Linked DNA regions of Homo sapiens. Changing the gene in region 1 together with any one later gene gives a genetic interaction. Each region holds a gene or a part of one and is shown on either strand. Other genes may lie near its edges.

Evidence for each region. A genetic interaction does not mean that the proteins touch.
Region 2: changes in PDK2 (region 1) and CKM together harm fitness less than expected from each alone (positive genetic interaction), as found in Homo sapiens cells (one large-scale study listed by BioGRID).

What each region holds. Positions count from the first base shown.
Region 1 is NC_000017.11:50,101,851-50,105,350, forward strand, and holds part of PDK2 (pyruvate dehydrogenase kinase, isozyme 2 isoform 1 precursor), read left to right. Parts: intron 1-2; exon of another isoform or gene 3-546; intron 547-3,500. UniProt on the Homo sapiens protein: Kinase that plays a key role in the regulation of glucose and fatty acid metabolism and homeostasis via phosphorylation of the pyruvate dehydrogenase subunits PDHA1 and PDHA2.
Region 2 is NC_000019.10:45,312,876-45,316,375, reverse strand, and holds part of CKM (creatine kinase M-type), read left to right. Parts: intron 1-778; coding exon 779-911; intron 912-3,500. UniProt on the Homo sapiens protein: Reversibly catalyzes the transfer of phosphate between ATP and various phosphogens (e.g. creatine phosphate).

The DNA.
Region 1 (3,500 bases):
ACCTTGGGCTGGGCTTGGGAGCTCCGGATCTCACCAAGGGACTCCTGGGGGCCTTGATTACTGCAGAGGTCAGCAGGCCCAGAGACCCCAGCCTCCCTGCAGGTCCTGGGGAGGGGTGGGGGCAATGCCTCTCCCGCCTGTTGGTGCCTGTCTGTCACTGCACCACTGCTTCAGGCCTCCCTTATATAAGCCCAGTTCTCTCTCTGGCCTGCAAGGGGTGGGCAGCCCAGAGGCCAGCGCCACTCGTCCCCAATCTCCCTTCTTAGGATCAAGAACCGGCCCAAGGTTGACATTTGGTGCACCAGGCCCCTGAGGGGCTTCAGGGCAAGGCCAGGGACCTCGGGGAAAATCCTCATCCTCTCCCCTCCATTCCAAGAGTAGCCTGGGCCCCTTGCCCTGGAGGAGCCCTGGCCCTGTGAGGGAGGCTGGCAGGCGCTGCCCGCTGTCACTCCATGCCGGTGCCCTTTGCTCCACTTCAGTGGCCACGTGACCAGGCCCCATTCCTGCCCTCTAGGGTTGTTGAGCAGCCACAAAAGGGGTGGTGCCAGCAGCTGGGGCACTCTCCCTAAGTGAGACTGGGACTTTGACCATGCCCACCCCCACCCACTGCCCAGCACAGTCAGGAAGTGGCTTAGCCTCCCAGCTCCCACCCGCTTCATCCCCACCTGCCTCCTGGGAAGGGGCCTCAGGCCCCACTCTGCAGTGGGTCTCCTCCCCCTCCTCTCCCCACCTGCCCCTAGCACTGCCTGTGTGCGGGCCCTCTCTCCCCTAAGAATCATATGAGCATGAAGGTCTATTTTGGGTGCGTTTAGGGAGCAAGGGATTCGGAGCCACATAGGCCTGGATGAGAGAATCTCAGCTCTGTGTGTTAACTTCCTCATCTGTAAAATGGGTCCAGCAGTAGCGCCCACCTCTGGGGTTCTTGTGGAGGTGAAAGTGGGGCAGGAGGGAAGCACAGGGTGGACCTGGCTATTGGTACCCAGTAAATGCCACCATCACCATCAGCAGCGGCATCACCGTCAGGGCCCGTGTTGGCCGTTGGCCACGTGGTGTAGACTTGGAGTCTGCAAGAGCTAGGTTTGAATCCCAACCTGCTGCTTACTATGTGGCCTGGGGCATATCACTAACCTCTCAGTGCTGGTCTCGTTGTCTGCAAAAACAGGGAAATACCTTGTGCTCATCAAGGCTGTTGGCAGATGAGAGACCCTGTGTGGGACTCGGCACAAGTGGGTGTTAGTGGTCGCTATGTTCTTCTCCAGGGAGACAGGTGAGGTCTTAGGAGTGCCAGCCTGATTGTCTGCTGGGGTGGCAGGGATGGTGATGGGGGCTGAGAGAAAGGCTGATCTTTTCTGCTGTTGGGGCCCCCAGCCCCATCAGCAGCCACAGCTCCTCCTATCGGGCTCTGTGCAGAGCTCTGGGTAGGGAGGGGTGGGCGGTGAGCTCTGGGCCTGAGACAGCCCCCTTCGTGTGGCAGTGGGGCAGGTCTCCAGGGCACAGGGGCTCCAACATGCTGTGATTCAGAGCCTACAAGCAGTGGGAGAGTATCAGATGCTGCCTGGGGGCTCAGAGGATGCATGCAGCTGTTGACAGTGTTTGAGCCACCAGCCATAATAAGAGCAAGCATTAGAGAGTGCTCACTATGTGCTAGGCACTGTGCTAATCATCACATGGAATTCTCACCACAAAGCAGTCATAAATAGATATAACAATCCCCATTTTCCTAATGAGCAAACTCAGGCCCAGAGAGGTTCCATGACTTACCCAGAGCCACACAGCTCCAAGTGCTTAAAGAGCCAGGTCTGGGTCCAGAGCTGGTTCTTTCACTCTCTTCTCTGTCAGGCAAGAGCGAGAAGAGCAGCAATACTAGGTTTAAGGGGAAGGGCATTCCTAGCAGAGGGCACTGTGTGAACAGAAGCGTGGAGGTGAGAGTCGAGCAGAATCAGCACTCTGGAGTGGCAAGAGCGCTGGAGACTCGGGGGCTTCATCATCCCACTTACTAGCTATGGGGCTGCTTACGCCTCCCTGGGGGAGGCTGTGCGTGGGGCTGATTCCTGCCTGTCTGCCTGTTACAGGTTACAGTGAAGGCCAGAGCACTGTGGACATGGGAATGAGTCCTCGTGTGGAGGGGCCTTTTCTAGAAATACTGTTGGGCCCCTGGGGCCCTTGGCACTGCAGGGCTCTAGGTAGCGCCCCCCCTTCCTCCTGGTTATAAGTGTTTCTGCCAGAGAGAGGCTCTTCCTGCCTTCCCCAAAGGAACAAGCCACAGACTGGACATGTTAGCAGGGAAACAGGTCATGGCTCCCCAGGGCACGGGGCACAGTGGCTCCAGCTTGGTACCATCTGCCACCACAGGTGGACCTGACTCCCTTGCAGAAGGAGGCCTGCTGCTGTCCCTGAGTTCAGGGCTTATTTTTTGGGGGGACAGAGTCTTGCTCTGTCACCCAGGCTGGAGTGCAATAGAGCGATCTCGGCTCACTGCAACCATTGCCTCCCAGGTTCAAGCGATTCTCCTACCTCAGCCTCCCGAGTAGCTGGGATTACAGGCGTGCACCACCATGCCCAGCTAATTTTTGCATGTTTAGTAGAGACAGGTTTTTGCCATGTTGGCCAGGCTGGTCTTGAACTCCTGACCTCAGGTGATTCGCCCACCTCAGCCTCCCAGAGTGCTGGGATTACAGGTGTGAGCCACCACACCTGGCTAAGTTCAGGGATTCTTGATGCTCCTTTTAGAGCATCAAGCTCTTCTCTTAGCCCAGGGAAAACTGGCCTCCCCATCAGGCCTGTAGATGGGAGGAGGTGGCAGGGCATCACCCACTGCTACCTGGCCTTTTGCAGTAGAGTGAGCTTCTCTGGACTCTCCATGGGCCCCAGCCCCACCTGGGGACAGAGCCAGGCACGCCCACCCCACCTTTGGGTCCTTCCCACCTGCCATTTTAGAATCCACTTGCCGAGGCAGGTGCCTGGCCCAGATCACCCCAGCTCAGGGGTCACTCTGGGAGGCCCCGTGCTGTCTCCTCTGCCGGGGGTCACTCCAGGAGGCCCTGTGCTGGCCCTTCTGCCATTGTGCCCACTGGATGCAACAACACCCCGGCGGGGAGAAACATTAGGAGCTGTTTCCACACTGGGGCTCAGAGAAGTTGATGCACCTCCCTGCCTTCCCCCACTGCAGGCGCTAGGTCCAGTCTCCCTGCCCCATCTCAGCCTCAGTCTCCTGATCTGTGAGTCCTCTTAGATGGGATCATCTCCAAGCCCCTTCTGAGAGGACTATTCTAGGATTCCAAAGCAAAGGTGCTAAACGGGGGACCAGCAAATTTGAAGTTTTCTTGCATAACTGACTGGGTTGTCAGGGAGACTCACATACAAATGAAATGGATGGAGAAAAATAGTGAGGCGGCTTGTCGGCAGCTCTGTGTGGGGCCCGCGTAGGAGCAGGACAAGAGCAAGGCCCAGTTGAATGAAGTGGGTGAGGAGGGGCTAGCCACCTGAAGCTGAGGCTGTGT
Region 2 (3,500 bases), on another chromosome or scaffold:
CCTGGGCAACATAGTGACACCCTGTCTCTATTTTTTTTTTTTTTTTGAGACAGAATCTCACTCTGTCACCCAGGTTGGAGTGCAGTGGCTCGATCTCAGCTCACGGAAACCCCTGATCCCCAGGTTCAAGTGATTCTCGTGCCTCAGCCTCCTGAGTAGCTGGGATTACAGGCGCGCACCACCACGCCCAGCTAATTTTTGTATTTTTAGTAGAAATGGGGTTTCACCATGTTGGCCAAGCTGGTTTCGAACTCCTGACCTCAGGTGATTGGCTCACCTCGGCTTCCCAAAGTGTTGGGATTACAGGTGTGAGCCACCGCGCCCAGCCCCTGTCTCTATTTATAAAAAATTTATTTTAAGTTAGCCGAACATGGTGGCATATACCTACCTGTTAGTCCCAGCTACTTGGGAGGCTGAGGCAGGGGAATTGCTTGAGCCCAGGAGTTTGAGGTTGCAGTGAGCTATGATGGCACCACTGCACTCCAGCCTGGGCGACAGAGAGAGACCCTGTCTCGAAGAAAAAAAAGGAAAAGAAATATACGAAGATGGGGAGAGAGAGGTATAAAGAAAAACAGAGATAGGAGAGGGGAGAGAGACAGAGAAGGGAGAGACAGAGCCCAGGTATGGGTGGCGGGGAGAGGCTCCACACACCCAATCAGTGAGGATGCAGAAGGCAAAGGAAGCAACAGGGAGACTGAGGGGAGCATCTGGGGGAGACCTGGGCTTGCTGGAGAGGGCGGAGGATCTGCCTGGTCCTGATCTCCCACCCGCTCTCCAGGGTGGAGACGACCTGGACCCTAACTACGTGCTCAGCAGCCGCGTCCGCACTGGCCGCAGCATCAAGGGCTACACGTTGCCCCCACACTGCTCCCGTGGCGAGCGCCGGGCGGTGGAGAAGCTCTCTGTGGAAGGTGAGCGCCCCTACCCCGTCCACTGCTGGGGTCACCCAGCCCTGGCTCTGTTCCTCCATGGGCAGGTCCTCGGGTCTCTTTGGGCCCCCGCTTTTCAAAGTAGGGGAAGAGCTTGGTAAATCGTGGGGGCTTGGGGAATGGCGCGGGCTGTCAGCATTACCTGCTGTGTTGGAGATTCAGGGATGCTGTCCAGACCCGACGGCCCCTGAGAAGACCTACGCAGACACCTGGCTGCCCCCAGCGTCCTGCCATCCGTTCATCCAGCACACATTTCCAGGGGTTCTTGCCCTGTGTGGGGAGATAGGGGTCCCTCACTGTTCTCACAGAGTGTTCAGCTGGTGGGGAGACAAGAGGAAATACAGAAACCCACAGATGAACAAGATAATTCAAAAGTGCCATGAAGCCAAGACATGGGTGTGGTGGAGAATGACCGAGGGGAGCCACCTCAGATAGGAGGAGTTGAGGCCGGGCACAGTGGCTCCCACAGCAGTGCGGGAGGCCTAGGAGGGAGGGTCGCTTGAGCCCAGGAGTTCAAGACCAGACTGGGCAATACAGCAAGACCCTGTCTCTACAAAAAAGACAAAAATGAGCCAGGAGTGGTGGCACACACCTGTCATCCCAGCTACTCAGGAGACTGAGGTGGGAGGATCACTTGAGCCCGGGAGGTTGAGGCTGCAGTGAATCGTGATTGTGCCACTGCACTCCAGCCAGGGTGACAGAGTGAGAACCTGCCTCAAAAACAAATAAAAAGAGGCCAGGCACAGTGGCTCACACCGTAATCCCAGCATTTTGGGAAGCTGAGGCAGGTGGATCATTTGAGGTCAGGAGTTTGAGACCAGCCTGGCCAACATGGTAAAACCCCATCTCTACTAAAAATACAAAAATCAGCTGGGTCTGGTGGCACACACCTGTAATCCCAGCGACTTGGGAGACTGAGGCAGGAGAATCGCTTGAACCTGGGAGGCAGAGGTTGCAGTGAGCTGAGATCACGCCACTGCACTCCAGCCTGGGGGACAGAGTGTGACTCCATCTCAAAAAAAAAAGTTATGTTTATCCTATACTGTAGTCTGTTAAGTGCACAATAGCATTATGTCTAGAAAAAAAAAAGTACATACCTTAATTTTAAAATCCTGCTAAAAATGTTGTGATCATTTGAGGACTCAGCAAGTTGGAACCTTTCTGTTGTGTAGGGCCTTGCCTTGATGTTGATGGGCTGCTGACTGATCAGGGCGGTTGTCGTTCAAGGTTGAGATGGCTGCGGCAATTCCTTCCTTCCTTCCTTCCTTCCTTTCCTTTCTTTTCTTCCTCCCTTCCTTCCCTTCCTTCCCTCCCTCCCTTCCTTCCCTTCCCTTCCCTTTTCTTCTCCGTCCTTCCTTCCTTCCTTCTTTCCTCCCTCCCTTCCTCCCTTCCTTCCTTCCTTCTCTTTCTCTCTCTCTTTTCAAGACAGGGTCTTGTTCTGTTGCCCAGCTGGAATGCAGTGGTGCAATCATGACTTACCATAACCTCCAACTCCTGGGCTTAAGTGATCCTCCCATGTTGGTCTCCCAAAGTGCTGGCATTACAGGTGTGAGCCACAGTGCCTGGCCAGCAGTAATAGTTTGAAAAGAATCTCTTTTTTGAGATGGAGCCACACTCTTGTCGCCCAGGCTGGAGTGCAGTGGTGCAATCTTGGCTTACTGTTACCTCCACCTCGTGGTTCAAGCAATTCTCGTGTCTCAGCCACCCAAGTAGCTGAGATCACCGGCATGCGCCACCACGCCTGGCTAATTTTTGTATTTTTAGTAGAATCGGGGTTTCGCCATCTTGGCCAGGCTGGTCTCAAACTCCTGATCTCAGGTGATCTGCCTGCCTCAGCCTCCCAAACCACTAGGATTACAGGCGTGAGCCACCGCACCTGGCCTATGAAGCTTTTTATTTAAAGTGAAAAATGTTGACTCTTCCTTTCACTTGAACACCTCGAGGCCATTGTAAGGTTATGAACTGAATTGGCCTGATTTCAAAATCATGTGTCTCAGGGAATACGGAGGCTCAAGGAGATGGGGAGAGATGAGGGAATGGCTGGTCAGTGGGGCAGTCCGAGCACACACATTTATCCATTAAGTTCACCCTTTTATATGGGCAAGGTCGGTGGCACCCCCCAAAATTAAAACAGTAACATCAGAGATCACTGATCACGGATCGCCATGACAGATATAGTAATAATGAGAAAGTCTGCAGTACTGTGAGAATTACCCACATGTGACACAGAGACACGAAGTGGCACATGCTGTAGGAAAAATGGCTCCAATAGACCTGCTGGACAAAGAGTTGCCACAAACCTCCAATTTGTAAAAAACACAGTATCTGCAAAATGCAATAAAACGAGGTATGTCTGTATATTATATGAATATGTATAAGATATATAAATATTATAGATTTATTGTACATATGCACAAACACAAATTCATTATACACATATTTTATACATGAATATACAAATAAACACACAATTTTTTTTCTTTTTTTTTTTTTTAGACAGAATCTCACTCTGTCACCCAGGCTGGAGTGCAGTGGCAAAATCTCAGCTCACTGCAACCTCCACCTCTTGGG